7 separate regions of the Homo sapiens genome follow, and regions 2, 3, 4, 5, 6 and 7 are each reported to be linked to region 1. Evidence: microRNA targets listed by miRTarBase, many of them from high-throughput screens and not tested one by one. Region 1 holds a microRNA gene; each other region holds the end of a gene's coding sequence.
The links. The annotated mature microRNA hsa-miR-6848-3p reads GUGGUCUCUUGGCCCCCAG and lies in region 1 at 2,924-2,942, shown strand. An mRNA with a match to its seed (bases 2 to 7 or 8) in the 3' UTR can be bound and repressed. Matches are read on the target gene's strand: a 7mer-m8 pairs with bases 2 to 8, a 7mer-A1 pairs with bases 2 to 7 and ends in A, and an 8mer does both.

Region 1 (4,419 bases):
CCCACCCCAGGCATGTATCCCGCTCTGGGCTGCTTGTTGCATTCCTTCTGTGGCCTGGGCCTGGAGGTGGGTACCGTCCATTGGCAGCTTTGGCTTCTGCCTGCTGTCAGCCCTCGGGAGAGGCCAGTGACAGTGTGGGCCACGTGTCCATGCAGAAGGCCTGTGTGTCAGCCCTGCGGCCGGGGGAGGCGGGGCAGTAGCCCTTGTGTCTCTGAAGCAGTCTTCTCTCTCATGAAGCCTTCCCTGACCACCCAGGCAAGACACCCTCAGTGTTCCCTTGCCAGCGACCCTTTTCCCCAGCACCAGTTCACTACCGCATGAGGCCCGAGCTCCGGGTGGTCAGCCAGGTCTGCGGCATTGGGGCCCAGCTTAATGGAGGTGTTGGTAGTGCTTGTAAGATGGAGGAGGAGGTTCCTGTCCTTGCAGAGGGAGGCCAAGCACCCAACTCCAGGCTCGTCCCAAGAGCCTTATTCCATGGGGGCTCAGTCCTGGGAAGTTGCTTTGGAGCCAAGTGTCCAAGGCTTAGAGGGCGGCAGGAAGCAGAAGAGGCAGGCGGGGCACAAGCCCTGGGAAGCACTCCAGGCCCAGCCCCCCTTGCGACACAGCTGGACACTGCTCCTGCAGAGAAAGAGTAGACAACTCCCCCTCTTCAGCCTTGGCCACCAGTAGGGACTGGTTCCTTGGGGCTCAGCCGTGGGCAGGCCTCCCTGGGCAGGCCTGTATTCTGGGGCTGTCTCTGGGGTGTGGTTGGCTGTGGGAGCCTTGGGTCCCTCACTGGCTCGGCTCAGCAGGAGGGATGTGAGCAGATCAGCAGCTGGTCTTTCTGCTCCTGAAGACCCAGGCGTCTGGCAGGGTTGGTTGGTCTGGCCGGTTGGTTCCCTCCATGTGGGACCGTCTGGTGTGATGGGGACAGGGAGGGACTTCCCCTTACCCAGCACTGGTGTTGGCTGAGGTGGGTGCTGAGTCTCAGAGCTTGGCATGGAGACCAGACAGGGCTGGGTCTGCAAGCCTGAGGCTGCCGCCCTGAGCTCGGGCTGGGACGTGCCCAGAGGTGTTGGGAGGATCTGGGGTGAGTACCCTGTGGCCAGGACTAAAGGGGCTGCACCCTCCTGTCCATCCCTCGCAGATCTTGAGCAATGCCCGGTTATTTCTGGAGAACCTCATCAAGTGAGTGCCTTTGCCAGGTCCCACCCCTGCCCCACCCATGGCCTGTCCAGGCCCCGCCCCACAGCCCCACCTGCCACCCACTCAGACCCCCATCCCTCCACCCCCAGGTATGGCATCCTGGTGGACCCCATCCAGGTGGTTTCTCTGTTCCTGAAGGATCCCTATAGCTGGCCCGCCCCATGCCTGGTTATTGGTGAGCTGGGCTCTGAGGAGGGCCTCGGGTGGGGATCAGGCTGACGTGGCCCTAAACCTGCCCCTTGGTGCTTCTGTCCACAGCGGCCAATGTCTTTGCTGTGGCTGCATTCCAGGTTGAGAAGCGCCTGGCGGTGGTAAGCAGTGCCCCTCACCTCCGTGTGTGCTCACCCTGCTGTGTGCGCTCCTGGGAGGAGCTGCTCCCCAGGCCTGGCAGCCCTCTCCCAGGCAATGGGAGCCCTGGTTGAGTGCTCTGCTCCCCACTCCAGGGTGCCCTGACGGAGCAGGCGGGACTGCTGCTGCACGTGGCCAACCTGGCCACCATTCTGTGTTTCCCAGCGGCTGTGGTCTTACTGGTTGAGTCTATCACTCCAGGTGCGCCCCCATCCCACCCTGCCCATCTGTCTCGGGCCAGCCACGGGCATGGCCTCCGGCTGTGGCGCTGTGGAGGCCTGAGTCCACCTCTCCTGCAGTGGGCTCCCTGCTGGCGCTGATGGCGCACACCATCCTCTTCCTCAAGCTCTTCTCCTACCGCGACGTCAACTCATGGTGCCGCAGGGCCAGGGCCAAGGCTGGTGAGGGGCTGCCAGGGGCTGGGGCTGCCTGCTGGGGGGCTGGGCAGCAGCAGGGCCCCACCAGCCCCCTCCCACTCTGCTGTGCTCGTAGCCTCTGCAGGGAAGAAGGCCAGCAGTGCTGCTGCCCCGCACACCGTGAGCTACCCGGACAATCTGACCTACCGCGGTGAGGACCTCTGTGGGCCTGAGGTGCGGGGGACAGGCTGGGCCTGTTCTGGTACCAACCCCCCATTCCCATTCCAGATCTCTACTACTTCCTCTTCGCCCCCACCTTGTGCTACGAGCTCAACTTTCCCCGCTCTCCCCGCATCCGGAAGCGCTTTCTGCTGCGACGGATCCTTGAGATGGTGAGGTTGGGGGCTGGGGGCAGCCACTGGAGGCTAGGGGGCCTTCTGGCTAGCCAGGGCCTCAGCTGGCTGCTCTCTGTTTCCCCCCCAGCTGTTCTTCACCCAGCTCCAGGTGGGGCTGATCCAGCAGGTAAGTGGGGTAGGGCAGGGTTGGGTGTAGCTGGGCATGGCTGGGAGCTGACGTGGTGCCCTCCTTTGCAGTGGATGGTCCCCACCATCCAGAACTCCATGAAGCCCTTCAAGGTGAGTGGCTCAGGTGCTCTTGCAGCTGGGGTGGCTGGGGAGTGACCAGGAGCATGGCTAGCTGAAGGGCTTGTTTCTGCAGGACATGGACTACTCACGCATCATCGAGCGCCTCCTGAAGCTGGCGGTGAGTGCGGACAGGTGGCGCATGCACAGGACAGGAGGGGACAGTGGCATGTGGGGGAAGGTTCTAGAACTTGGTGCCCACCCCCACCTCCCTGCCAGGTCCCCAATCACCTCATCTGGCTCATCTTCTTCTACTGGCTCTTCCACTCCTGCCTGAATGCCGTGGCTGAGCTCATGCAGTTTGGAGACCGGGAGTTCTACCGGGACTGGTGGTGAGTGTCCCTGGGGTGTCCCTGGGGGCTGGGATGGGCCATGGTGTGCTCTGATCCCCCTGTGGTCTCTTGGCCCCCAGGAACTCCGAGTCTGTCACCTACTTCTGGCAGAACTGGAACATCCCTGTGCACAAGTGGTGCATCAGGTAGGTGGGGTGTGTGTGTGTGTGATGTGGAACATGGCTGTGAACCTGAACCGCTTTCCATGCCCCCTCCTCTGCAGACACTTCTACAAGCCCATGCTTCGACGGGGCAGCAGCAAGTGGATGGCCAGGACAGGGGTGTTCCTGGCCTCGGCCTTCTTCCACGAGGTCAGTGCTCTGGGGGGCATCTTGCCTCATCCCTGGGCAGGGGTATGCCCACAGCAGGGACGGCTGACACCCCACTCCCTGGCATCCTCTCTCCCTCCCATCTCAGTACCTGGTGAGCGTCCCTCTGCGAATGTTCCGCCTCTGGGCGTTCACGGGCATGATGGCTCAGGTGAGTGACCCCCACGTGGCCTCCTCACTCGCCCAGTTACCCCGCACCTGAACCCCTCGGCTGACCCTCCCCATGCCCAGGGACCCTGAAGCCCCCAGCCCTGTGGTCACCATGGCCGACTGACTTGGCCCCTCACTCCCTAGATCCCACTGGCCTGGTTCGTGGGCCGCTTTTTCCAGGGCAACTATGGCAACGCAGCTGTGTGGCTGTCGCTCATCATCGGACAGCCAATAGCCGTCCTCATGTACGTCCACGACTACTACGTGCTCAACTATGAGGCCCCAGCGGCAGAGGCCTGAGCTGCACCTGAGGGCCTGGCTTCTCACTGCCACCTCACACCCGCTGCCAGAGCCCACCTCTCCTCCTAGGCCTCGAGTGCTGGGGATGGGCCTGGCTGCACAGCATCCTCCTCTGGTCCCAGGGAGGCCTCTCTGCCCCTATGGGGCTCTGTCCTGCACCCCTCAGGGATGGCGACAGCAGGCCAGACACAGTCTGATGCCAGCTGGGAGTCTTGCTGACCCTGCCCCGGGTCCGAGGGTGTCAATAAAGTGCTGTCCAGTGACCTCTTCAGCCTGCCAGGGGCCTGGGGCCTGGTGGGGGGTATGGCCACACCCACAAGGGCGAGTGCCAGAGCTGTGTGGACAGCTGTCCCAGGACCTGCCGGGGAGCAGCAGCTCCACTGCAGCAGGGCGGGCATGGCCGGTAGGGGGAGTGCAAGGCCAGGCAGACGCCCCCATTCCCCACACTCCCCTACCTAGAAAAGCTCAGCTCAGGCGTCCTCTCCTGGTGCTACTCCTGCTGGGTGTGCGGGAATCGGCACTCTGGCCCTCAGTGCAGGATGGTCAACTTGCACCCACCGTGCTCAGCTTCAGCTTGGGAAGAGGTCGGCCCTGGGTTTGCGGGAAGTGGGCTCCAGCCAGGATGGCCCAGGGATGGGCAGTCCACAGGGCCTTTCTGGTGTGGGTCTGGTGAGCCGAGGGGCTACGGTACACAATGGCTATGTCCATGGCTATTCGCCTTGGGGCAGGGCTCGGTTTGGCAGCCTCTTTCCTTCACTTGGAACCTGGGCAGCCAGGT
Region 2 (4,419 bases), not on the chromosome of region 1:
ACTCCCAGATTCTCAGTCCCGCATGATGCCTTAGGTCAGTTCCACACTGCACTCTTCAGGCTGACTCGGAGATTCCAGCTCCTGTCTTCTTGCATAAATATATCTCCACATACTTGTCTCCCCCCGTGTTTAGGACTCTGCGTTGGAGGGCCTTTGGAGCCTGCTGTGTGCTGGGCACGCTGCCACCTTAGAGAGGGATGGTCTCTGGGTGGAAGGCCTCCCCTCTAGGCTCCCACCCACTTTGCTTCCTCCCTGCCCCCTCGGCGGGCAGTGATCTGTTCTGGGCCCTGGCGCCGTGCCTTTAACGGGTGGTTTACGTGTCTGTCTGCCTGTTTTAGCTTCTGCTTCTCTTTGTGTCCTCCACACTTTGCACCGTCCCTAGATCAGGGGCACCCAGTAAATGCTTGTCAAATGAAAGAAGGGATCACTGAATCTCATTGACAGAAGCGCGGCTTCCAGGATTGAGGCAGCAGTGCAGGAGCTCAGAGGGCACTCAGGGCTGCCGGGGTGGGGAAGGGAGCAATGGGGTGGTCCCACTTGGGAAGAGCCGCAGGAGGGAGCACCCCCTGCTGGCAAGAATACCAATGACCTGAGGAACATGCCTCCTGCTCCGCGGGGGTCCATTTAGCTCCCTTCCTGAGCAGCTGGTGTGACTGCCTGGGGCACTCACCGAGCATCCGGGGCCACTGTGAGCCCACAGCCCCCTAGACATGCCAGCACACACACACCAGGGCTCCCGACCTGGCCGTGCTAGGGCGAAAGAACTGGGTAACTTGGGCTGGTTCATTCTGTGAAACACAAATGGTGTGGACCTCAAGTCATTTGGGTTCTTGAAGTGTAAATGTTGGATTGATGTGTGACTCAGTGCTTTGGAGATAAAAACGGTGCTCTAACGGGTTTTCTGTTTGCTTGCTTTCCTTTAGGAGCTTGGCCCGTTCTTATAGATGATTTTGTAGAATATGCACGGCCAGTAGTCACAGGTGGAAAACGCAGCCTTTTCTAGGCAGCAAGTTAAGCAGGAGTAAGATTATGAAATGATTTGTATCCTGCAAGGAGATTGCAGTCAGTTCCTGGGTGCATTGTCGCTGATTCCAGAAGTCATTCTTGACCAGCCATGAAACCAGAGGCGCCATCCCATTCTGCCGGAGGACAGCCAGCGGCTGCTTTGTGGACACCGCAGGAAGTTCCTCGGGACACGGCTGCTTTGGGATGTTTGGAGATTTGTCATCATAGCTTTTGCGTTAGGAAATTTCTGCATGATTTTTTAATATTTACAAAATACTAAGGTAGAGCCATAGCGCCGCCTGTGGGACCGCAGAGCATGCTGCGTAGCTCGCGCGTCAGGCGAACCAGCGTCCGGCAGCGTCCCGCCGAATGACGTTGCGGTGGCACTGGCAACACGGCATGTGTCCTCTGCAGGGCGCTGCGTTTTTATACACGTCAAAGCTGTTAAGAATGTGCCCTAAGGGAGAGGATCTTGTCGTAGAGTCTAATGTTTTTTAAAATTGGTGCCAGCAATTCACGATTTATATTTTTTGAATTACCAAATATCTAGATTTACCAGCTCTATTTTTGTTTTCATTTTCTCTAGACATTCATCTGAAAATCATTTTATGGTTCTCAATCCCCATGTAGCTTTGCATAGCAACGGCACACGTGGCACGATTCCAGCAGAGTTTATCTCACACCGTTTATATATCACTGGGCCTCTCTTACTTAAATATTATTTGACCTGCCTGAGAAGCTTCATAAAGTATGTTTTTTTAAAATATATTTTAATTACATTTAAAAAGACATTTTTCCATGAAAAACATTTATTTTATGAGTGATGAATTATAGATTTTAAAATCAAGGCCGGGCGTGGTGGCTCACACCTGTAATCCCAGCATTTTGGGAGGCCGAGGCAGGTGGATCACCTGAGGTCAGGAGTTTGAGACCAGCCTGGCCAACATGGTGAAACCCTGTCTCTACTAAAAATACAAAAATTAGCCGGGCATGGTGGCACATGCCTGTAATCCCAGCTACTCAGGAGGCTGAGGCAGGAGATTCGCTTGAACTCAGGAGACGGAGGTTACAGTGAGTCGAGATCGCGCCACTGCACTCCAGCCTGGACGACAGAGTGAGATTCTGTCTCAAAATAAATACATACATACATACAATAAAACCGAATGAGCTGGTTCTTTCCATCCTCTTGTGGTACCCGTAGTGCCCAGCATCCAGACCTTTGTGCCCCTGTGCACATTTGGAAGCTAAAATGTACATCGTTGTCTGAAAAAACCCAACCCCAAAACCTTCATCTGATTGGTGAGCTGAAGTCTGTCCTTGCACCATGTTATCATCTGTTTCTCGTGTCCGCCTGGTTGAGGAGGACCCACGAGTGCTGCCGAGGTGTGGAGGGCTGGTATTGAGTTGTGGACATCACTGTTGACCCTACCTCACGTGCCGAGACTCTCATGTCACAGGCGTGCCTTGCTGCCCCCCTGCAGCACTGTGCAGGACGTGGACCAGCTGGAGCTGCTGCCCAGCACAGAGGAGAGTCGCCGCAGATGACCTAGCTGCGGTGTGAGAGAGCATGGCCCAGACAAGCAGCTGGGTTGGCTTCTGAGAACAGGACTTACCCTGGGCTTCAGGAACATCTGATGGCTGAGGTTAGTGTGCTTGGAGGCTGCAGGACGAACTGTCGATGTTTCTTAGCAGAGATGGTCACAGAGGGCAGCAGGGACAGGACTGGAAGGGACCTGCAGCCTGCAGACCCCGCCTGGCCCCCGCTGGCTTCTGGCTGGTCCAGTGATGGGCAAGTGACAGACCTTCCCCAGGCTCTGCTTCCAGAACTCTAATGGGAAACTGGGCCTGTCTACCTTTAGAAGTCTTCGATTCTCAGAGAGCATTTGTCTAATACAATAAAAACTGGCATTAATACAAACCTCAAAAACGTGAGCGTATCTTCCAGGCTTCATGGATTCTTGACATGTAATTGTTTTGTTCAGAAAAGTTTATAGAATTCACATAATTCTGTATAAACTATGGAGATCCACAGTACTTTTTTGTTTTTGAGATTTAAAGTTCTAAGGGATTGTCAATAGATATCAAAATATTAATCATTGGACAAAGGCTTTTCCAAAAATTGTGGGTTTTTTTCTTCTGTTGTATCCATTTGAGTCCTGCATGCTGTGAAATGCTGAGAACAGAAGCATTAAATTGGTTTTTCTCGGGCGTGGTTTCCTTTCGATTCTCCTCAGCTGCAGGGATGTCTGCCTATAGGTGTCAGCATCCACGTCATTGTCCCAGGATGAGAGAACAGCCCCCAGCTAGCAACCAGCGGGCAAGCCCCTGCCCCCGTGTGTGGCCCGCCAGCCCTGGCCAGGTAACCAGGTCCTCAGGTACCTTCTGTCATTGCGTTGCCTCTCAGCGGTGCACCGTGCACCTGATGGGGTGGCTCATGTGAGGAATGAGAGATCTCACAATAGGCAGGATTTACGGGAGTGTGTCGGGGCAGGAGGTCATGTGTGCCAGCACAAACTGCTGGAAACCGTCCCTTATCGGAGGCAAACGGCCAAGCACGGGGGTCTGAGGATCATGTGCTACCTGCCGATTCACGGTGCACCTGCCAGCGTTCCGGAATCAACAACGCCAGCTCCTCTCAGTGACATTGTACATGTCATTGTGTTATTTTCGCTTGAAGTTTATATCCATTTTAGACCTCAGGCTTCTTGGGGCCAAGAATAAACTTTCTTCTGATCCTTGTTGCTGTGTCCACAGTTTCAGGTACAAAGTAGGGGCTCTGCAAATATTTGTTGGATAAACGAGCTAACCTTATCCCGTCCTGTTTGCTGAGGGAGCCAGCTAGTGCTCTTGGCAAAGGTTTCCGCCGCCTGCGAACTGAAGCGCTCAGCGAGCGGGCTGTGTTAATCCCCTCAGCAGCACACGCTTCGGCCCCACAGTGCAGTTGTGCCTAAAACAGGTGAGAGTTTGAACGAAGGGCCGCCCCTCCTGTCTGTCTTGTTTGGATAGGGACCCTGCGTGCATGCTGTTTTTTGTTTTGGAGTTTTGTTTGTTTGTTTGTTTGTTTCTGAGACAGAGTTTTGCTCTTGTTGCCCAGGCTGGAGTGCAATGGCGTGATCTCGGCTCACTGCAACCTCTGCCTCCTAGGTTCAAGTGATCCTCCTATCTCAGCCTCCCAAGTAGCTGGGATTACAGGTGCCCACCACCATGCCCGGCTAATTTTTGTATTTTTAGTAGAGACGGGGTTTCATCATATTGGTCAGGCTGGCCTCAAAATCCTGAGCTCAGGGGATCCGCCCGCCTCGGCCTCCCAAAGTGCTGGGATTACAGCCATGAGCCACCGCGCCCGGCCTGCATGCTGGTTTTGAAGTTTGTTTCTGAATCTCAGGATCATGCTAGCTGGCATGACTGTGCTGA
Region 3 (4,419 bases), not on the chromosome of region 1:
TAAACAGAGTTACCTTATGACCCAGCAGTTGCTCAGTGTACAGCTAGGTATACACTCAAGAGAAATTAAAACATATGTCCAAACAAAAACTTATACACAAATGTTTATAGCAGCATTACATAATAACCAAAATGTGTAAATCCAAATGGCTATCAATGGATGAATGGATAAACAAAATGTGGTATATCCATGCAATAGAGTATTATTTGGCCATAAAGAGGAATGAAGTACCAATACATGCTACAACATAGATGAACTCTGAAAACATTAGGCTGAGTAAAGGAAGATAAGACAGAAAAAGGCACTACTGTATGAGCCCATTTATATGAAATGTCCAGAACAGGCAAATCTATAGAGACAGAAAACAAATTAGTGGTACCAGGAGTTAAGGGGGAGAAGAGAAGGAATGACTGCTTAAGGGTACAGGGTTTCTTTTTGGGGTAATGAAAACATTCTGGAATTGATAATGATGATAATTGTACAACGTTGTGAATGTACTAACGGCCACTAAATTATACACTTTAAAATGGTGAATTTTATATGAATTTTACTTCAATTTTAAAAAAGAAAAAGAATGAAGTACTGCTGTGTGCTGCTATATAGATGAAACCGGAAAACATTATACTAAGTGGAAGATGCCAGTCACAAAAGACCACATATTATTATGATCCCATTTCTGTGAAATATCCAAAATGGGCAAATATATAGAGAAACAGCAGATTAGTGCTAGCCAGGGGTTGGGGAGGATTGGAGGGTGATATCTAAACAGTAGATTTTCTTTTGGGGTTGGTGAAAATGTTCTAAAATTGATTCTGGTGATGGTTGTACAATTCTGTAAATACACAAAAACCATTAAATCTTACACCTTACATGGGTAAATTTTATGGTAAATTGCATTTCAATAAAGCTTTTTTAAAAAAGAATCAGGGCTGGGTGCAATGGCTCACACCTGCAATCCCAACACTTGAGGAGGTCGAGGCAGGAGGATGGCTTGAGGCCAGGAGTTCAAGACCAGCCTAGGCAAGACAGCAAGACCCCCACCTCTACAAAAAATTAAAGGAAAAAAAAAAAGAATCATTGAGTTAGTGTGGAATGGACTCTGATTTCAAGGAAAAGGGAGGGATAAGATAATTTTTCTTTTTAAAAGAGAGAGGATCTATGTTGCCCAGGCTGGAGTGCAGTGGCTATTCACAGGTGCATTCATTGTGCACTACAGCCTCTAACTCCTGGGCTCAAGTGATCCACCTCAGCCTCTACATAGCTGGGACCATGCCTGGCTAATTTTTTTATTTTTGTAGAGACGGAGTCTTGCTATCCTCAAGTGATCCTCCCACCTCTGCCTCCCAAGTAGCTGGGACTATAGGGACATGCCACAGTGCCTGGCTAGAAATAATTTTTAATAGCGTAAATCAATGTACTAATGTCTTTATCTAATAGAATCTTATAGATACACCAGGAGAAAGAATAGACAGTGGTTGGCAGATCAGCAAATTAGCCTTAGGCTCCAGGCAAGGAGGCTACTGCAAAAAGTGCAGGGTACCTGGCTGAGAAGTGGAGGAACTAGGGCCTAAAATCCTTCCATGGGTGCTAGGGATGGAGGAAAGGTTTTTGTTTTGGTTTTTTTCCCCTTTCTCAAAAAGACACCATTTGCTCACCGAACTATGCTTGGGAGTTGTGTCCACCAGACTTGGGGAGAAGCGTTTTTCTAATTCATCTTACAGGCCAGCTGGGGCCAACTTCACCCCCTTGCATTATTAAACCTCTTTCTACCATGGTTAACAACCTATCCCTTTTTTTTTTTTTTTTTTTTTGAGAGAGAGTCTGGCTCTGTCTCCCAGGCTGGAGTGCAGTAGCGTGATCTTGGCTCACTGTAACCTCTGCCTCCCAGGTTCAAGCGATTCTCCTGCCTCAGCCTCCTGAGTAGCCGGAATTACAGGTGCACACCACCACACCTGGCTAATTTTTGTATTTTTAGTAGAGATGGGGTTTTGCCATGTTGGCCAGGCTGGTCTCAAACTCCTGACCTCAGGTGATCCACCCGCCTTGGCTCCCCAAAGTGCTGAGATTACAGGCATGAGGCACCACACCCAGCTGAACCATACTTTTCATCATCTTACTATTTGGCATCTGTAACACTAGGGACCACTGGCCATTAATAATCTGAACTTAGCCAGGTGCTGTGGCTCACACCTGTAATCCTAGTGCTTTGAGAGGCCAAGGTGGAAGGATCGCTTGAGGCCAGGAGTTCACGAACAGCCTGGGCAATGTAGCAAGACTCTGTCTGTACAGAAATTTAAAAATTAGCCAGGCATGGTCCCAGATACTGAGGAGGCTGAGATGGATCACTTGAGCCCAGGAGTTTGAAACTACAGGGAGCTATGATTGCACCACTGCCCTCCAGCCTGGACAATAGAGCAAAAATATGTCTTTAAAATGATAGTAACAATAAAAATAATTTCAATTCTTCCCTTAGCTACCTACCACAGCAGTGAACGTTTATACTTCACAACCACTACTACTCAGCTTCTCTACTTTATGCCAGCTAAAAGTAGGTGCTATCCCATGGTTTTAACATCTGTTCTGTTTTTCAGTGGTATCAGCTCCTCTTGTTCTAGGTACTGTCAAACCTCAAATCCCAGTCCTGATGCTTCTCTCCAGGGCCTCTTCCCAACTCTTTTGATGGACATCTCTAGGAGGATTTCATGCCAGCATTTCAAACATGACAGGAGTGCTGGGGTGAACAGAGGGCACAAAACATACACATGAGAAAAGAACCAGTGGATTCACACAATTTTGGCTTCAAGTCAGGAATAATGAATGGGACAAGGTGGAATGCTACATAAGATGGGCATGTAGATCTGATAAAGAGTGGCACAGGTTGGGAAACAAGGGAGGCTTCCACAGAAGGGAAGGGCAAAGGGTGTTCTATAGTGAAAAGGCCCAGTGGAGCGGGGGCATAGCACTATTTGGGGCTTCAGACAGTTAAAGTCGGTGCTGCATGATGCCTGGGCTTGTCTTCTCAGTCTTCTCTCTTTATCAGACAAAGAACAGGAACTTAACAAAATGTGTTGCATGGCAAAGGAAAATAGCGGTGGGATAATAGGATTGATTTGGGAAGAGGTGGAGGCAGTGAATTCAGACAACTCCAACCACTTCATAAAGGTTCTCAGGTGCAGCCAGGCTTTCCTAAGATGACTGATCTCATCTGTGCCTGGTGGCAGGAGAGACTGATCCTCCTCACAACCCCTATAGAACAGTGGGGCTCCCCCACATCTCAGACACACATAATTATATTATCATTTTATTACACTTTTTTTTAAATAGTAGAGACGGGGTCTTGTTATGTTCCACAGGCTGGTCTTGAACTCCTGGGACCAAGCAATCCTCCCACCTCTGCCTCCCAAAGTGCTGGGATTATAGGTGCAAGTCACCACGCCCGGCCTATTTTATTCCACTTCGGAGACCGCCCCCCTTGTCCCTCAGATGCATCCAAATCAGGAGTTAGGGATCATACTCCACTGTGGTCCTGAATTATAGAATAATGAAGTCCTAGATGTCAGCGGCCCCTGGCTGCATGATAGTAAGAGTATGGCTGAGCCTGTCTTGCAGATCATCCAGTACCTGTACAGGCCAGGCTACACTGTTCTCAAGCACTCTCTGTAGCCAAGTGCCAGTAATCACAGACTAGGCTACCTCTGCTGGGCCAGAAATAGCTGCCTGAACCAGGAGCTCACAGCACCATCCACTCTCATCACCAAAGCTATGCCCAGGAGAAGTCCCACGCTGCTCACAATGAAGCCCACAGCCTCAAATATGAACCTGCAAAGAAAGGCGGAGAATCTCAGGCAACAGAGTAGGTCTACTGCCTTTTCCCTGTAGAGGCAAAACCTTGGCCATCCTGGATGTTTAGGATCTTCATACTTTGTTCCAAGTTTCTCCCTCCCCACCACCTCTACTTCTCAAGCAAATCTACTCACTTAGGGGCAAACACTTTCCAGACCATGAGATGCCTGCGAAGGATGGAGGCTGCCAAGGCACAGGCCAGAATCTAGAGGAGGAGAGGAGGGGCCACGTTACTTGTGAAGGAGAGGAGGAAGCGGAGCAAAAGGAGAGTTTCTATAGGCCCCTGTAAAAAATGGAAGCAGGAGAATAGTGCATGTCAGTGGAAAAAATATTGCATGTCCTGGGCTAGGAGTTAGGAGACCTACTTCCTGCCCTGCCCCAAGCACTGACTCACTATGTGACTTTGGGCAAGTCAGTATCCATCTGCAATGCTAACACTCAGGCTGTGCCCCCAGGATGGAGGAAGATATCAGTGCCACATCTGCCTCTGGAGGAAAGGAAGAGGATCCATGACCACAGTTTGGGAAGAAAATCCTGGCTATCACCTCAGTTTTTCCAGTCTGTCCACTGATAGAG
Region 4 (4,419 bases), not on the chromosome of region 1:
AGATTTCATGAGACCCATTCGCTAACAGGAGAACAGCACAGGAAAAGACCCGCCCCCATGATGCAATCACCTCCCACTGGGTCCCTCCCACAACACGTGGGAATTCAAGATGAGATTTGGGTGGGGACACAGCCAACCCACATCAGTGCCCTATACAGGTGTACCATTTTTTATCTTCTTTACCATATTTTTACCATACCCTTGCTATGTTTAGATATGTTTGGATACACAAATACTAAGCATTGTGTTACAATCACCTAGAAGCAACAGGCTATACCATAAGCCTAGGTGTGTAGTAAGCTATGTCATCTATGTCTGTGTGAGTGCACTCTATGATGTTCAACCAAAGTCAAAATTACCTAACACACATCTCAGAACTTAGTTAGAGCAGCCCAAACGGACTGACACCTTTCCTCATCCAAACTCATCTCTGCCATGCCCCATTCCTTTTAACAGGTCATCTTACTACGGGATCTATTGTTTATTCTTATCACAGTGTTAAGAACTGAAAACGTGTTGAGGCAAACTTACCAAATTGTGGCATTGGACGGGGGAATGAGAAGGAATAGTGCAAACATGGATGGAGGAGATACTTTATTTGTATGGATTTTTGTTTTGTTTTGCCTCCTTTTCGCTTTTTTGTTTTTCTTTGTTTTTTGTTTTAGGTCTTTCTGGATCAATTTTTCAACCTCCCAGAAACGACGGCAGGGAAGATGCCTGACCCTCAAAACAAAAGCGCGCATCCTACCGGGGCAATGGGCCCCGTGGGACGAGGTGCAGGGCCGCTGTGGGGCGGGCAGGTGAGGCACAGAGAAGGGCTCACCCAGCCTCCGAAAGGCAGCCATTCCCTTTTCTCAGTGTCCTGCTAAACCTGGAGCCGGGTCGCCCCAGCATCTTCCAGTGGCAGATGGGGAGGAGCAGCACCCACCGCGAAGGTGTCCACGGCCAAGGTCGGGCGCCCGGGCCGCCCAGGCACTGCGGCGGGGACGAGCGGCCAGGAGGCAGCTCAGCGTGGAACTGTAGCCCCGCCGCCCCCGCCCCCCCCTGCCTGGGCTTTTTAGATAAAATCCAGGACTTCATGGACATTTCCCGCATGGGACCGTTTCAGAGTCATTTGCTCATCCCACGAGTTTTTACTGCGCATCTACAATGGGGTGCACAGTGTCCCCTCGGCACTGGGGAGAGGCAGGGAACAGGTGGAGAAGTCTCCCTTTTTCCTGGAGCTTAGACTTCAGAGGAGAGAAGAAGAAGATGAGTAAGCAACTAAGCAAACAAGATAATTTTAGACAGTGATGTGTTCTGTGAAGAAAAGAAATGGGAAGAATGTGACGGAGAGGACTGTGAGGAACCTACTTTCCACTGGGATGCAGGGAGGCCCCTCTGCCGAGGGGATGTAGGTTTAACAAAATTAATGCTAAAATTCTATATTTTCAATGTCAACAATATTTTGTGGGAAACATTGATACCATTTAAAAAGATCTGATTATTTAGAATCTGTGGCAGTTTTTTTTGTCGTTGTTGTTACTGTGGTTGTTTGTTGTTTTTATTGTTTTTAGATTAGGCAACAGTTTAAAAAATCTGTTCAACAGGGGTTGTGGAAGAATGTGCCGTTTGGGATAGAGCCTAGGGAGGAAAACAAATGTTGTTCTCCTGAAGAGCAAGGAAGGGCTAATGCAGACAGAAGATGATGCTAATAAAATATCATTAAGGCTTATTTCGTTACAGCTATTATGAAACCAGATTTTTTTTCTTTTAACTTTTTTGAGATGGAGTCTCACTCTGTTGCCCAGCGGGGAGTACAGTAGCGCTGTCTCAGCTCACTACAGCCTCTGTCTCCCAGGTTCAAGTGATTTTCCTGCCTCAGCCTCCCGAGTAGCTGGGACTACAGGTGCACACCACCACACCCGGCTAATTTTTGTATTTTTAGTACAGACAGGGTTTCACCATGTTGGCCAGGCTGGTCTCGAACTCCTGACCTCAAGTGATCCACCTGCCTCAGCCTCCCACAGTACTGGGATTATAGATGTGAGCCAACGTGCCTGGCCGAAACTGGTTTATTGAATGAACTAAGTCCAGAAAGCGAGGGCTTCATTTTTCTCTAACCATTGCCTTACAACAAAGTTCTGTTGGATCTCCTCCCATCATCACTCCTGAATCTTGGGCAGATACCATAAATTTTAGTGACAAATCTCACTTTAGTCATTGCACCTCTATTTAAGGGATTAAAATGTCCAGGCCAGTCCAATTTAACAGCAATCTCACACCTCATTCAAAAATCTGCTTGGCCTTCCTTGCAGTGAAATGACGAAGGCATATAGTCAGTTTCTTTACTCTTCCTCCATTGTCTCTGTCTTCTCTATATTCTAGATGTCCCTATGCCATTGCAAGGGAAGAGGGTATTACACAAAGAGGAGCAGATCTTCCTGTAGTTAACTATTGAATAAGGCAGACAGGCCAGCATGATCCTGCCAGCTGCTATGGCAGAGTCCAAATGCTGGCTTTTTCATAGGGCACATCTGTGAGTTATTGGAGGGCCTTGAGTGTACCCCACATTGCACAGTTCCATGATGCAGGGCCACATTATCTGGCTGACCTCTTGCAGCAACCTCCACCCCAAACCCCTCTTCTGCCTAACCCCGTGTCCTCTTACTGCTATAGTTTCTTTGCACAACAGGCTACCCTGTTGGCTGATATCCCGTCATGACAATGCAAGCCCAGCTACTCTTCCATAGTCAAAGCCATGTGAAGAAATTCACATCCTTTTACCATGTCAATAATGGGAGGGCAGGTTGCTATCAGTGCTTCTCTTCTCTCATCCTGCCATTTTGGGTGCTCAAGCCAACCTTTCACCTCCTGAATTCCCCAGGGGGGAAGAACTCATCTATTCATTCAACAAATATTCATCAAGCACTTGTATTTGCCAAACACTATTTACCAGTCTCTGTGTTCCCAGTGCCCACCCTCGGACTCCAGCAAACACTCATCAAGCTCTTCCAAGAATTCTCAAGCCACACCACATCTGCTGCACTGAACCTGTGTGCTCCTGTTACTCTGCAAGCTTTCAGTCTTGGAGTGGGATGCCAGGCTACCTTCTACCATGCTGAGTCCCTCACACTTGTCTGCAAGAAATTCAAAGCAATCTCCCTATGGCCTAGAACCTCCGCTTAATGACTCTTTAATCACGCTTTTGACTCTAGTCTTCTAGAGATGGATAATACGGACTGGGAGTCATTGGTCTCTTTCTGCTCTTTTGATAAGTCCAGACTGGCTGTGTCTAGTATCATGTTGGTGCAGTTACTGTCTTTCGTCAGCTTTGAGCCTTTAGCCAGAATTCTAAGACAACCAGAAAAGTCCCATTCAATATCCAGCTGCAAATAAATTTGGCCGAGTTTTCTTGGAAAGCAGGTGGATCCACGTCTTTCACCTCAACAGCTTATGATTAAGTCCATATATCCCTTTACATACATACACTATCAAGTCATGAGTCCTCATTGGTTAATTACATATTTGTGTAGCAGGATAAAAAATTAAATAAGCTATTACACATATGTGAAACAAAAGACTTTTTTATATGCCGTAGCTGATCTAATTTTTTCCCCAAGCCCCAGACTTGAAGAGAATGATGACACTGACCCAAAGACCAATATGATTCACAGGGCACTCCGAGGACTGGTGCATATGATGCTGAAGTTGACTGTTCCCTTGCTGCCATGAAGCCATATAAACTCTTGCTCACAACAGAATCCATTTGGGAAAGCAGAGTGGAGAGGAGCTGAAAAACTGAGCATTTACTCAAAAGAGACTGTTTCAATTTGAAACATAATGATTAAACCAGAAGAGACTGGGCTGTCTCTAACTGGCAGGCTAACCTCACCGCCTAGCTCAGTTCCCCAGATGAAACATTGTTTTTGTTAAGTCTTTCCTGAAGGCATGAGGATAATGGAGGCACCTCCAGACAGTTACTTACGACTGTACTATTCACCATCATCCAAGTAAATAATGGTTTCTTAAGTTGAATTTCCTAAATTTTTTTAAGATTTCACATCATTGTTTTCAGTGACTAGTGTTAATTTCATATTAAAAGCGGCTCTAATGTTAGCCCAAAAGAGCCCACGTTTGCTTTTCTCCTTGGGCCACTGCAAATAAGTCCGCTGCGTCATGAGAGCCTTCAGCTTGTGGTACTTGTTGGGAATGCTGTTCTGTGGAATGGGTTCCAGTAAGATGAGGATTAAGTTATTAGATCCTTCATGAAAGAGATTGTGATGGGCAAAATAGAGTTCGTAATGGCACCACTCACTCTGGACAAAGTTGGGAGACAAAACAAAGATGGACTTGTAACTCTTCTCAATGCAGTTGATGATATTTTCCACAATGCTCTTGCCAGGGACAAAGTTTCTCTCATGAAGACAAATCTGTATA
Region 5 (4,419 bases), not on the chromosome of region 1:
CCAGGAGGCGGAGCTTGCAGTGAGCCGAGATTGTGCCACTGCACACCAGCCTGGGCGACAGAGCGAGACTCATCTCAAATAAATAAATAAATGAATAAATAAACAAAATTAAAAAGAAAAAAAATTAGCTAGGTGTGGTGGCATGCACTTACAGTTCTAGCTACTTGAGAAGCTGAGGCAGGAGGATCACTTGAACCCAGATATTTGAGGCTGCAGTGAGCCAAGATCATGCCATTGTACTCCAGCCTGGGTGACAGAGCAAGACCTGTCTCCCCGCAAAAAATATTTCTTCTTTCTTTATTTTTTTTTTTCACAGAAATGTTTTAAAATAAATTTTATGGCCAGGTGCGGTGGCTCAAGCCTGTAATCCCAGCACTTTGGGAGGCTGAAGTGGGTGGATCACCTGAGGTCAGGAGTTCGAGACCAGCCCGGCCAACAGGGTGAAACCCTCTCTACCAAAAACACAAAAATTGGCTGGGCATGGTGGCACGTGCCTGTAATCCCAGCTACTAGGGAGGCTGAGGCAAGGATAATTGCTTGAACCCAGGAGGTGGAAGTTGCAGTGAGCCGAGATCGCACCACTGCACTCCAGCCTGGGCGACAAGAGCGAAACTCCATCTCAAAAAAATAAATAAATAAATAAATTAAATTTTACATATTATATTTCATAGCTAGAATAAGGATTTATAACTAATAAGTCCCCCTTTGTAGCTGGATTGTTTGTGCAGAGGGAAGGAAATTGGGATGGCAATGGGAACGTGTAGGGGTTAATACACTGATAATGGAGGCTAATTATATTTTCTGTTTTAATATCTATATGATAGATTTTTTCCCACTTTACCAGGAATTGCAACTGCACTTGAAATAATCTTTTTGTTTATTATGTGTCTTTTTTCTTAGGCTCTGGAGACAAAATTCTTGCTCTGGCAAGTTTTGAGGTTGAAAAAACAAAAAAATGACATGGTGCAGAAGCTTGTAACATTGATCACATTCTTAATGTAAATGGTGTCTTTCTTCTGGGGTTTTCAGTTATTGCAAAGAAATGAAGAGATTCTGGAAATGCATCAATAACCTAAGAAAAAGCGACATAAAAATATACTTATGGCTTGTGTTTATGCTCTTCATCATTGTGCGTTGTGTGCGGTTACCTGCTTGAGTGATCCTGAACTTGTTGCGACAGAGGGACTCACTGGACTCTGTTCGTTATGATTTGTCTGTTTAAGAGAGAAAACAAAGTGGACTTGATTTTTATTAAGGCTGTTTGTTTTTAAGTGTTGATAGTGAACGAAAAGATGTGAAGTAATGATATTTTTCTGCTTACAACTTATCCCCACTCATTGGAGTGAACAGTGACGCAAGCTCAATAGACTTCATAAGTGTTCATAGAATTTTACAATTCTGAGTGATCTTAGAAATCATTTCTGTTTTTACAAACAAGGAAACTGAGGTCCAGAAAGAGCAAGCGACTTTGCTTAAAGTCGCATCAGAGAGCTGAGGGTAAGACTCAGGTGTCCTGACTCCCAGTTTAGTATCTTTTGAATTTTATTTCTGTACCATTTAAAAAAAATAATTAACACTATTTGTGCAAGTCAGTGTTTTTGAAAATTCAGTGTCCCAATAAAAAGTGGACTGCACACTAAGGGACCATCCCCCAGCCTGTAAGCTGTCTGTATTAATGGGGCCCGTTGTATCTCGGAATTTTGAGGTTGGAACAATGGGAGCCCTGTTGAGCGTTTCCTAAAGTGACTTAGCCGCCTGCGTTGTTTGACCAGGGAAGCAACAGGAAATGGCAGCTAGAGGCCCTCCCTGTGCGTGACCTCTTGTCACACTCAGAGGGGGGTAACTGTCAGCTGTTATCTACTCTTCAGGTTTTGGAGAAACACAAAATAAGTTATGAGGAAAAGCAAATTTCTCTCCTGAGTATTTACATGTCTCTGTATGCTCAAATATGCAGATGTGTCCCTATGCGTGTATATTAGCTTATTTTTTAGGCTCTAGCCATTTTATATTCTTTCATGTGCTTCTCAATATTCTTTTTCTTTGCACTTTATACAAATTAAAAGCATTTTTAAAGCTTCTTCTGTACTGTAAACTACTAGGTGCTTTGCCAACCAGACAGATTAGAGGACCTCCGCTACACTGATGCCTTATTTGGAACTTAAAAGAGGTGAAATTCATATATCATAAAATTCACCATTTTAAAGTGTACCATTCGTTGGCAGAACATTTACAGTGGTGTGCAACCATCACTACTCTCTAGTTGCAGAACATTCTTATCACCCCCAAAGGAGGCCCTATACCTATTAAGCAGTTAGTCCCCATTCCCTTCTCCTCCGACTGCTAACAATAGCCACTAATCTGCACCCTGTCTCTGTGGATTTACCTATTCTGGATATTTCATATAAATGGAATCATATGATATGTGACCTTTTTATGTATCTGGCTTCTTTCACTTAGCATAATATTTTCTTTTCTTTTTTTTTTTTTTTTTGAGACAGAGTTTTACTCTTATTGCCCAGGCTGGAGTGCAATGGCGCAATCTCAACCTCCGCCTCCCAGGTTCAAGAGATTCTCCTGCCTCAGCTTCCCAAGTAGCTGGGATTACTAGTGTGTACCACCACGCCCAGCTAATTTTTGTACCTTTAGTATAGAGACAGGGTTTCACCATGTTGGCCCAGCTGGTCCTGAGCTGACCTCAGGTGATCCAACTGCCTCGGCCTCCCAAAGTGCTGGGATTATAGGTGTGAGCTACCACACCGGGACATCATCATATTTTCAAGTTTAACCAACATTATAGCATGTATCAGTACTTTATTCCTTTTTATGGCTAAATAATATTCCATTGTATGGATATCATATTTTGTTTATCCGGTATCTGTTGATGATTTGGGTTGTTTCCTTCTTTTGGCTATTGTGAATAATGCTTCAGTGAACATTTGTGTACAAATATTTGTTTGAATACCTGTTTTCAATTTTTTTGGGTGTACACCTAGGAATGGAATTGCTGCGTTTGTTGTTGTGTTGTTGTTGTTGTCGTTGTTTTTTGAGATGGAGTTTCACTCTGTTGCCCAGGCTGGAGTGCAATGGCGTGATCTCGGCTCACCACAACTTCTGCCTCCCAGGTTCAAGCGATTCTCCTGCCTCAGCCTCCCGAGTAGCTGGGATTAAGGCATGCGCCACCACACCTGGCTAATTTTGTGTTTTTAGTAGAGATGGGGTTTCTCCATGTTGGTCAGGCTGGTCTCGAACTCCTGACCTTAGGTGATCCACCCGCCTCAACCTCCCAGAGTGCTGGGATGATTACAGGCATGAGCCACCATACCCGGCCTGAGCCACCACACCCAGCCTACGTTTGTTTTTTAAGCCATAGAAGATTCTTCCCACCAGTCGGGCACAGTGGCTCACACCTGTAATCCCAGCACTTCAGGAGGCCAAGGCGGGCGGATCACAAGATCAGGAGCTCAAGACCAGCCTGGCCAACACAGTGAAACTCCATCTCTACAAAAATTAGCCAGGCATAGTGGCAGGTGCCTGTAGTCTCAGCTACTTGGGAGACTGAGGCAGGAGAATCACTTGAACCTGGGAGGCAGAGGTTTCGGTGAGCCGAGATGGCGCCACTGCACTCCAGCCTGGGCGACAGACTGAGACACGGTCTCAAAAAAAAAAAAAAAAAAAAAAAGAGGAAGAAGATTCTTCCCTTACCCTGCAATAGTAGACCAGAAAAATTAGGAATATCTTGAATTTGAAAGGGACCTAATGCCTGGCACAGTGGCTCACGCATGTAATCTCAGAACTCTGGGAGGCAGAGGTGGGCGGATCGCCTGAACTCAGGATTTGAGACCAGCCTGGCCAACATGGTGAAACCCTGTCTCTAAAAAAAAAAAAAAAATTAGCCAGGCGTGATGGCATGCACTTGTGGTCCCAGCTACTCAGGAAGCTGAGGTCAGAGGATCACCTGAACCTGGGAAGCAGAGGTTGCAGTGAACTGAGATCACGCCACTGTACTGGCTGACAAAGTGAGACCCCTGTCTAAAAAAAAGATAAAGAGAGTTACCTGAATCTGGAATCCTTAATCTTGGTTTTCCTTAAACTTTCTATAAGTCCAGCATCTGAAATATTTTGTCAATTATCACATTAATGTGTTCATTTTGTAAGTAAGAGTACTCAATTTAAAATGATCTTACTTTAAAAGTGGCCTAGTTTGCAGTGCCCAGCAGGACACTGACAGTCACAGCTGTGTGACTTTTTGTGGGTTACTTAATTTTTTTGAGCCTCCTTTTCTCTTCTATTCAATGAGGATAATAGGGCCTACCTCATAGGATTATTATGCATTCCCCTCTGTTAATGCACGTAAAGTTTTTACTTGGAAAACTAACTCACCATTTAACAACCATTCTAAGCACCATAGGATATATTTTG
Region 6 (4,419 bases), not on the chromosome of region 1:
GTTGCAGTGAGCTGAGATCACACCACTGCACTCCAGCCCGGGCAACAGAGTGGGACCCTGTCTCAAAAGACAAAAAAAAAAAAAAAAAAAAAAAAAAGAGATAAGTAACTTACTCAGGCTCACACAGCCAGTGTGGGAACTAAACCCAGGTCTGATTGATCAACCCCAAAGCCCTTGCCCTTTCCGCCACCTGAAGCTGCCCTCAAAATCCCTTGTAAGGTGCACCCACCACTGCTTATCCTATCTCCTCTTCACTCTGCCCTCAGGAAAATACCATCCACTGGCAAGTTGGTGCTGACACTCACAACCGACGCCTGTGAGGGGAAGGAAAATTTTGTCCGCTACCTGGAGCATGTCCAGGCTGTCATCACGGTCAACGCAACCAGAAGAGGAGACCTGAACATCAACATGACTTCCCCTATGGGCACCAAGTCCATTTTGCTGAGCCGGCGTCCAAGGGATGACGACTCCAAGGTGGGCTTTGACAAGTGGCCTTTCATGACCACTCACACGTGGGGGGAAGACGCCCGAGGCACCTGGACCCTGGAGCTGGGATTTGTCGGCAGCGCCCCGCAGAAGGGGGTGCTGAAGGAGTGGACCCTGATGCTGCATGGCACTCAGAGTGCCCCGTACATCGACCAGGTGGTGCGGGATTACCAGTCCAAGTTGGCCATGTCCAAGAAAGAGGAGCTGGAGGAAGAGCTGGACGAAGCCGTGGAGAGAAGCCTGAAAAGCATCCTTAACAAGAACTAGCGCTGCACATCCGCCTTTCCCACCGCCCTCCCTCCCCAGCTCCGCCTCTGTCCTCGCTCCACGTTTCAGGCAGGCACCTAGCAATTCCATCACCCGTACAGGCAATTCCGTCTTCTTAATCTGAAGCTTCACTCACTGTCAATGATTATTTTCATTACAATGGAAACAATCTTTTTTACTCTATGCCCCAAATATAGCGTTCCCAACAACATCCATGTCCTATGTGTGACTCTAAATTCTTTATTTCTGTCATTCAAATGGGTGATATCCTGAAAAAAAAAAAAAAAAAAAAACTGGGACAGCTTTCCCCTCATTTTTTTTTTTGTTTCTGAGAAAAGAACGTATTTTAAAAGCCACATAGAGTGACTCCAAGAACAATTGTCCATGGTCTCAAACAAGGGGCTGTTACATAACAAGAAAATCAAAGCTGAGGACAGGGTGTGAGCGCCACATCTCTGAAAGCACAGGAGACACTGTGCTATAAATCCTTTGGGGAGCGATGTTTTGAATTTAGTGAGATTTACCAGGGATGTAGATTAAGGTGATGTGATTCAAAAGATGCCATTCATAGAGAGCCCTAGTTACTGCATGGGGAAAGAGATCCAGGAAGCATGAGTGCTGGATATTTTACTACCAATGCCAAGATAATTCACTCTACTCAGCCGGCGTGGCAAATATAAAACTTACAGAGCGTGGCTGTGCTCTCACCAGCTGCTGCTCTGAGTTATGTTAAAATCCGCTAGAGCAGCCCAAATTTTTCTCAGTTTGTATAGAGTTCATCCCAGCCCCAATTTTCTGGGGCTCCTCACATAGCTACCCAAAAGAGAAAAAAAATTAAGACAAGCCTGGCAACACACCTGGTGAAGAGTAGTTTACTAGCTTTTCAAACAAGAATGTCCCTTTTCCTAAGTCACTTTGAGGTGTCTCAATCTGATCTGAGTGAGAGGCGACAGGAGTATTTTTTTTTTTTTACAGCTTTACACACACAGATGTGGGCTTTGATTTCCAAGTAATATAATGGAAGAGAAATCTCATACTCCCCCACAGTTTGATGTCATTAATGTGTTGGGAAAAAGGCCTCTGTCCCGGAAGAGTCATGGGAGGTGAAAGGGGCACGTTTGAAGATGCGAGCGCTATCTTCACATAGTTCTCCAGTTGTATGGAGCCTCTTCTGCCAAGAGAGGGCCATGCAATTCATCCCAGAGGAACCTGAGGCCTGAAGGAGGTGAGAGAAGACCTCTGTGAGGAAAGCACACAGTCACCTTCTCGGCAACTAAGCAGTCCCTGAGACCATTTAACATGCAACCCGAAGGTTATGGTCAATCCCAAAAGTCACCACTCCATTCCCAACTAGACATTACCAAAGTGACCTACCCAGAGATTGCTTCTCATCCCCAGTCCCAATGCACATCCATTCCCAAGAAATGCTTTGTCTTCAGCCTCTCCAGGCACCATCTCCCTTCCTGTGGGAGCAGAGAGCTTAGCCTGGAGCACCTTTCCTTCAAGCCAGCAACACAGAGCACTAGGTTCAATTCCCTGAAGGTGGCCACTTTAAGAGAGAAATCTGAAAACCCCATTTGCTTTCTTTTCTCCCATATTGGCATGGATTTCTGTCTTCTCTAACACCTTGTGACCTTCTCTATATCATGCTTTAAAGTGTAATAATATGATTTTTTAAAAGAAATTTATTACTTGTTGCAAAGGTCTTTTTAAACCAGTTTAGATTTCAAGAAAAAATAAATGGAAATCATCGAAAATTCATTTCACATTAATGGTCTAAAAATAAACCAAAGGACATTATGTGTGCATGTGTGTATAAGTGCACACAGAAATATATATACATATGTAGACTATATACATGTGTGTATATATGTGTATATATACATACACTTGTATAAATGTATATACACATATACCTATAATGTGTGTATGTGTATTTATTGAAGAAACAGATACCATACTCATTTCTAAAAGAATATTCAGAGAATATCAAGATGATTCTGGCTGAAAAAGGCCAGTGGAAATTCAGGTGAAAATGTTCATCAATTCCCATTGCATCACCTCTGTAATTTTTCAGCTCTCTGTATAAACATTAAATGTCTTATATAGCAGCAAAAATATAAAATAGTTGTCCATATTTTCACAGGTGTGGTGTAATTTATAAAATTAGAAAGCAACTTATCAGCTACTTAAGAGAAATGGCAAGTTTTGATATGAGTATACAATATATAAAAATATATATAGTGCTATATATATAAATATTTGGTCTCTATTTCATTTTTTGCATCAGTATTAATACTAAAATATGTCTCGCTAGTGATGTTTTTATGATATCCCTGATCCTAACTGAAGAGACAGTTATTTATAGTCATTTATTTTAAAAAATGAAAATAAGTGAATAATAATTAGGTTAACATTGTTGCTCCCTGTGACAAAATTTTATAAGCAAATTTCAAAAGACATGTTGTAAATTAGGAGGCTCAACAATAAAACATTATGCTCCAGAAATTATGTGAGATGTGCTATATTGTACATGAAAATACTTTCATCCATTCTAGGAACAGATAATTTAAAAATTGCCAAAGAGAGATCTAAAGAGCCTGCTTTACTAAGTATGCATAAAAGACTTATAATTAACATATAAATCATACACAAATTATTATCTACAGCAGTATTTTTCAAACTCTAGTTACATCCATTAGTGGGTTGTAAAATCAATTTAGGAGGTCAGTTTTTAATAAAATAGAGTAATTTAGAATACAGTAGGAGAGAAGAAAATCACAGGATAGGATAGGATAGAATAGAATAGAATAGAATAGAATAGAATAGAATAATCATGCATAATAAGGATAAGTATTGTTTCCTGAAATATTTGTTTCAGATGTGTGTGTGCACACGTGTGTGTGTCTGAGTGTGTGTACTGGATCACAATGTAAAATACATTTTTCATTGTGAGTGATGGTCAAAAATCTTTTAGAAACACTATTCTAAAATATATTAATCAGGCTAGACTAAGTTATGCTATAGTAACAGACAATCTCAAAATCTCAGTGGTTTAATACAACAAAGGTTTATTTATCATCCACACAAATTCCAGTGAAGGTTCAGGTGACTCCCCAAAGCCACAGACCTCCATGCAGTGACTCAGGATCCAGGCTGTTTCACCGTATGGTTTGTAATCATAGCACAAGGCTGCTACAATCACCATGCAGAAGAGAACCCAAGGAGGACATTCATCTGCTCTTCTATGTTTAGCCTGAAGGAGACACATGCATCGCTTCTGCCCATTGCCCACTGGCCAGTATTGGGCAATAGCCCTGGCTAAATGCAAAGCAACTGGGAAATCTGTGACAACTAAGGGAATATTTGGTGAGCATTAGAGTCTCCACTACAGAGAGTGCTTGACATTCCCTTAAAACATGTTCTTAAGAACCGATTTAACATGGCAATCACTCTTCATGGATGGTACCATGAACATTATTACAAACTGGCTGTACCTTACCCCATAGACCACAGACTATTCTAGAAAAAGACCTTAATAATTATTCATAAAATATTAATATACTATATTTACCAAAGTTAATTATAAAAACAATTTATAATTCTGTCCTCTGATATAACACTTAAACTCAATTATTAAAATCTTAGCCGGGCATGGTGGCATGT
Region 7 (4,419 bases), not on the chromosome of region 1:
GGAGAGATTTGAGTGGGATGGAGTGGGGAGAGGGTCTATGTTGACTTTCTAGATAAGCTTCTAGTACCAAAGTGTCACAATGGTTGTGGTACTAGGAGCAGGGGCCAGTTTTAGAAAGGGTACTTTTAAGCACCTTGACACCTAATCTTTTCTTTCTGATCCCTCTGGGACCAAAGCGCTTCAGAGAGGCAGCTGCTGTGTTTCAGGAAACTCTGAGAGGTGGGTCCCAGCCTGACGCAGCCCGAGAGCTCCGCTCTTGCCTTCTCCACCTCACACTGGTAAGGGGGCCAGGCACACTGTCATGCTGAGGCGGGTATCAGGGAGAATTGGCTGGGACTGCAATACCAAGCCTCAGGTGGCTAAGGAGGGGGCGGGGAAGGATGGGTGGAATGAGAGGCATGGGCTCTCCTGCTTAAAAGAAGGATCTGGTGCCCTTCTCTCTCCCTTCTCAGCAGGGTCAGCGAGGAGGAATCTGTGCACCACCTCTGTCACCTGGGGCCCTCCAGCCACTTCCCCATGCTGAGCTGGCACCCTCAGGCCTACCTTCCCTCAGGTGCCCTCGAAGCACTGCTTTGAGGTCCCCTGGCCTGTCTCCACTCTTGCATTATCCTTCATGTCACCGAAGCCACCCCAACCAGCCCCTCTCCCAGACTCAGAGTAGAAGGCCCCATCCTCTCAAGCCCCAGGACCCTTCAAAGGGCTGGGACATCCTGGGACTTGGGCTCCAGCATCTGTCTCAGGCCAGATGAGGGGGCACCGGTCCCTCATAGGGCAGGGCCATGTATATATCCCTTGGTGGGGGACATAGTGTGGTGACAGTTCACTGCATATTTTGAGACCTTATTCTCTAGATCCATAGTTAATGATGCCCTGGCAGTCATTCCTCTTGCCATGGGGAAGCTTCTGATGAGAGAAAGGAGCCCCACATCCACTGAAACATCCTTTGGTTCTCAAGCTTCTTCTGGAGGCAGTAAGGAAAAATAAAACCCACCAAGGCTCAAGAAGGGAACTATAGAAAAGTTCAGGTTTTTAGGCTATAGCAGAGACAGTGAGAAAGCATCTGGGCCTTTCTCTTCCTCTTGGTCCAGGGGACCTCATTCACCAACTAGAGCTTGGTGTACAGGAACGGGGTCACAGTGCTGAGGGGGCTTGAGTCCCACCTTTCAGCTTGATGGATGCTCACCTCTTCTCAGCCCCAGCTCGTGCCCTGTTTTTCTAGCCATAGCCCCCAGATTACTCACAGCTCCTCATGCCATTTCCTGTCCAGATTGCTATGTATGACTCTGACCTCTCTTGTCCAGTGGTCTGGTGCTCACCTCCTCTCACTGCTAGAATATTCACCAAGGGTTTGCATTTGGGAAGTCCCTTACCAGCTCCTGCTTAGAGCTGGTAGGGCCATACATGTCCACACTCCCAACTGGTGGCTCTCCCGCTGAATGGGGCCTCAGCAGGTGCCCAAGCTGCTACAACCTTGGCCACTCTGTTTCTCCACCCCAGCACTGGGCATGGTAATTAGCCTTTCCCCATGTTAATTTATTCAGTTTTTTCAAGGGTCAACTGAATTCCCCACTTCCTGGGTAAGAAGCATGATCTCCTTTTAATTTCACGTCTAAGATCCTGGCAGCTTCCCCTAGCTGGTTCCTCTGTAGTCCTGCTGGGACTGTCAGCTCATTTAAATGTGGGTCTGCAGAAGGCTTTAGGTCTCCCCCAACCCCCTTACCTTTCACAGAGGAACCTTTCATCAGGATAAATGATTATTGCTGCCCTGTGGGTCTTGCTCAATACTGTTCATACCTGGAGAGAGAAGGTATTGAAACATCTCCTTTATGTGTGACTTTCCCAAATTTTTAAAAATTGTTTATGGTTTAGGCCCCTTAAATACTGTGTAGCAGGATGAAGTCTACCATTACCAGCTGGGTCACCTTGGATGGGTCTGTCAACATCTAAGCCTCAGTTCCCTCACCTGTAAAAATGAGGGTAGTCCCTACCTCATAAGGGATATTGTGAGGATGGAAAGCGAAAGTGTGAGAAAATACCTCCCAAGTGCCTGGTACATAGTGGGTGCTAAATAAACCACTTTTTGTCTGCAACTGTCCTACATAGTCATGCTTCCCACAATAGGAAGAGAGGAGTGTGGGTGAATTGGTGCTGAAATTCACAAAATCCAGAGTTCTGGGACTGGATTCTCAAAGTGTGCTTTCTAGGCTAGCAGCATCAGCATCATCCAGGAACTTACTAGAAATGCAATTTCTCAGGCTGGGCACGGTGGCTCACGCCTGTAATCTCAGCACTTTGGGAGGCCAAGATGGGTGGATCACCTGAGGTCAGGAGTTTGAGACCAGCCTGACCAACATGGAGAAACGCCTCCTCTGCTAAAAATACAAAATTAGCCAGGTGTGGTGTCACATGCCTGTAATCCCAGCTACTCGGGAGGCTGAGGCAGGAGAATCGCTTGAACCTGGGAGGCGGAGGTTGCGGTGAGCCGAGATTGCGCCATTGCATTCCAGCCTGGGTAACGAGCAAAACTCTCAAAAAAAAAAAAAAAAGAAATGCAATTTCTCAGGCCCCCTGCAGTGACCTACATCAGAAACCATGGGAGCAGGGCCCAGCAATTTGTGTTTCAATAAACCTACCAAGTGATCCTGATACACACTGTTCAAGGGCGGGGCTTAGCGGAGCAGACCTCCATCCAGAGGCCATTTTGGTGGGACAGGTTTGAGTTTTGTTGTCCAAGTCTTCAGTATAAGAGGTGGCAGTGCTAGCTGGGCTAGAATTTGGGAAACCTCAATGGGGAGAGAGGTTATGACTCAGCCAGTTAATTTGACTGGACCCTACCTTCCTAACTAGAAGGATTTGCCCTGAGAGTTCTTTGCTCACCCCTGGTTGGGGAGCAGGATGGGCATAGGTGGTTGTGTTTGTCCAAGGGGTGATTATATTACAGTGGTTCCATAAGAGGCCTGCCCATCTGGCTTTCCTGTTTTTGAGCAGGGACCTGCATGCTTTTGGGATGTCTGTAGGGCTCCTGACCTCTCAAAGGCCACCCACCACTACTCAATGGTATTTTTGCCTTCCAGCTGAGCTGGCTCCTTGTTCTAGCTTCTCAAGTAAATGTTCCCTCCCCAGTACCTTAGCCTGCCCTGGACTTGTAGCTTCTCCAAGAGTCACGTGACTCCTGACACTTTGCCCCATTTTCACCCTCCTAATTAATAGGGGTCTGACCCAACAGCCTGAGTTCTGAGTTCCCAGGACTGGAAAGTAGAGTGACCAACCATCCTGGTTTTCCTGGAACTGAGGGATGTTCTGGAGTGAGGGACTTTCAATGCCAAAACTTGGAAAATGCTGGGCAGATGGGAAAGAGTTGATCACCCTACTGGAAATGTTCCAGAGAGGCAGTATTTAGAAGGGAGTACTGAAGGGGCAATGCAGTTGCAAAGAATTATTTTTTTGCATATGCATAATGGCTGACAGATTCTTAGCTCCACACCAGTGGTCACTGTCTGTTTCCATGTTGCCATTTTTCTTCCAGTTGCCCACATTTGCTAGGTTGTCATTGACTCATGCAATCCTTGATCCCTGGGGCAATCGCAGATTCCTCTTCTGTGACCACCTCCCAGCCCCACCTCAAGTCTGGCCCTGAGTTCTCTCTGCTGTTACCTTTTGCAGTGGCCAGATATATACTCCCTTTTTCAGGTCTCTACCAGTCTCTGATCCAACCTGCGCCCACAGCCAGATTGGCCTACCCTAAACAATGGTCTCTTGTCTCTCTTCTCTAAAACCTCCAGGGACCATGCTCTAAAGTACAATGCCTAAGTCCCTACCTGTGGCCCTTTCTCCTCCCCTTTCTCTGTAAATCCTTTGCTTCTTTCCTTTAGGCTCAGTCACCTTTATAGAGACCAAGAGCATGGGCTCCTGAGTCGGACAAGCAAACAGCTCAGTCCCTGTGCCACCACTTACAAACTGTGACCTGGCCAAGTTTCCTCAGGGTTCTGTAATTCAGTCTCATCCTTAAAATGGAAAGAAAAGTCTCTGTCCTGTTGGGTTATTTTAAGGATTAATACCTGCAAAGCACTTGGAACTGCTTAATAAGTGGTACTGTCTGAAAATGCCAGATTCCCTTCTGCCTTCCAGCCTTGTTCACTTTCCAAGGAATATTCTCTCTTGGGCCCTCCACCTGCAACTAAGGCCCTAGCTGACCCCCGTTGAACCCATGGAACTTCCTTGAAAGTAGGGTTGTCACACTTAGGCAGAGGCAGGAGAAAGTCTGAAGAGAGCCAGAGGACTGACAGGAGAGAAGGGAAGCAGGAAAGACAACTGAGCTTGATCTGAAGATTGGCTGGGACCACTGGGGAGGGGAAGGCCTGCAACTACTGAGCGTTCCCCCTCCTCTCCCCTCACACTGCAGGAGGGTGATTATCACCA

Region 2: the mRNA of DCUN1D2 is a reported target of hsa-miR-6848-3p. Seed matches in the 3' UTR shown: 7mer-m8 at 1,933-1,939.
Region 3: miRTarBase lists PIGO as a target of hsa-miR-6848-3p. The part of its 3' UTR that is shown has no 7-base or 8-base seed match.
Region 4: miRTarBase lists TLR6 as a target of hsa-miR-6848-3p. Seed matches in the 3' UTR shown: 8mer at 3,232-3,239 and 7mer-m8 at 1,959-1,965.
Region 5: the mRNA of LZIC is a reported target of hsa-miR-6848-3p. Seed matches in the 3' UTR shown: 7mer-m8 at 3,837-3,843.
Region 6: the mRNA of PCSK2 is a reported target of hsa-miR-6848-3p. Seed matches in the 3' UTR shown: 7mer-m8 at 2,040-2,046.
Region 7: the mRNA of TTC31 is a reported target of hsa-miR-6848-3p. The part of its 3' UTR that is shown has no 7-base or 8-base seed match.

Annotation. Positions count from the first base shown.
Region 1 is chr8:144,315,776-144,320,194 of GRCh38, reverse strand. MIR6848 (microRNA 6848) reads left to right here and starts at 2,880; the gene lies at 2,880-2,949. DGAT1 (diacylglycerol O-acyltransferase 1) reads left to right here. Exons shown (of 17, transcript NM_012079.6): 3 at 1,127-1,167; 4 at 1,275-1,360; 5 at 1,444-1,496; 6 at 1,629-1,734; 7 at 1,833-1,934; 8 at 2,026-2,100; 9 at 2,178-2,281; 10 at 2,373-2,411; 11 at 2,483-2,524; 12 at 2,607-2,651; 13 at 2,750-2,862; 14 at 2,943-3,008; 15 at 3,086-3,173; 16 at 3,280-3,342; 1 more. The coding sequence ends at 3,641. RefSeq lists enhancers at 1-265, 2,682-2,931, 3,782-3,841.
Region 2 is chr13:113,454,613-113,459,031 of GRCh38, reverse strand. DCUN1D2 (defective in cullin neddylation 1 domain containing 2) reads left to right here. Exons shown (of 7, transcript NM_001014283.2): 7 at 924-3,213. The coding sequence ends at 1,003. Among named protein-coding and RNA genes, the nearest start is that of ADPRHL1, 3.3 kb to the right of the region's middle. RefSeq lists an enhancer at 2,084-3,014.
Region 3 is chr9:35,085,403-35,089,821 of GRCh38, forward strand. It overlaps PIGO (phosphatidylinositol glycan anchor biosynthesis class O), which reads right to left. Exons shown (of 11, transcript NM_032634.4): 10 at 3,978-4,048; 11 at 3,286-3,819. The coding sequence ends at 3,690. Among named protein-coding and RNA genes, the nearest start is that of FANCG, 7.7 kb to the left of the region's middle.
Region 4 is chr4:38,823,052-38,827,470 of GRCh38, forward strand. It overlaps TLR6 (toll like receptor 6), which reads right to left. Exons shown (of 2, transcript NM_006068.5): 2 at 1-4,419. The coding sequence ends at 4,032. Among named protein-coding and RNA genes, the nearest start is that of TLR1, 20 kb to the left of the region's middle. RefSeq lists an enhancer at 686-855.
Region 5 is chr1:9,926,939-9,931,357 of GRCh38, reverse strand. It overlaps LZIC (leucine zipper and CTNNBIP1 domain containing), which reads left to right. Exons shown (of 8, transcript NM_032368.5): 8 at 901-4,419. The coding sequence ends at 959. Among named protein-coding and RNA genes, the nearest start is that of LZIC, 14 kb to the left of the region's middle. RefSeq lists enhancers at 46-545, 3,035-3,544.
Region 6 is chr20:17,481,318-17,485,736 of GRCh38, forward strand. It overlaps PCSK2 (proprotein convertase subtilisin/kexin type 2), which reads left to right. Exons shown (of 12, transcript NM_002594.5): 12 at 267-3,261. The coding sequence ends at 753. Among named protein-coding and RNA genes, the nearest start is that of BFSP1, 48 kb to the right of the region's middle.
Region 7 is chr2:74,492,470-74,496,888 of GRCh38, forward strand. It overlaps TTC31 (tetratricopeptide repeat domain 31), which reads left to right. Exons shown (of 13, transcript NM_022492.6): 12 at 177-278; 13 at 453-2,090. The coding sequence ends at 749. Among named protein-coding and RNA genes, the nearest start is that of LBX2, 4.9 kb to the right of the region's middle.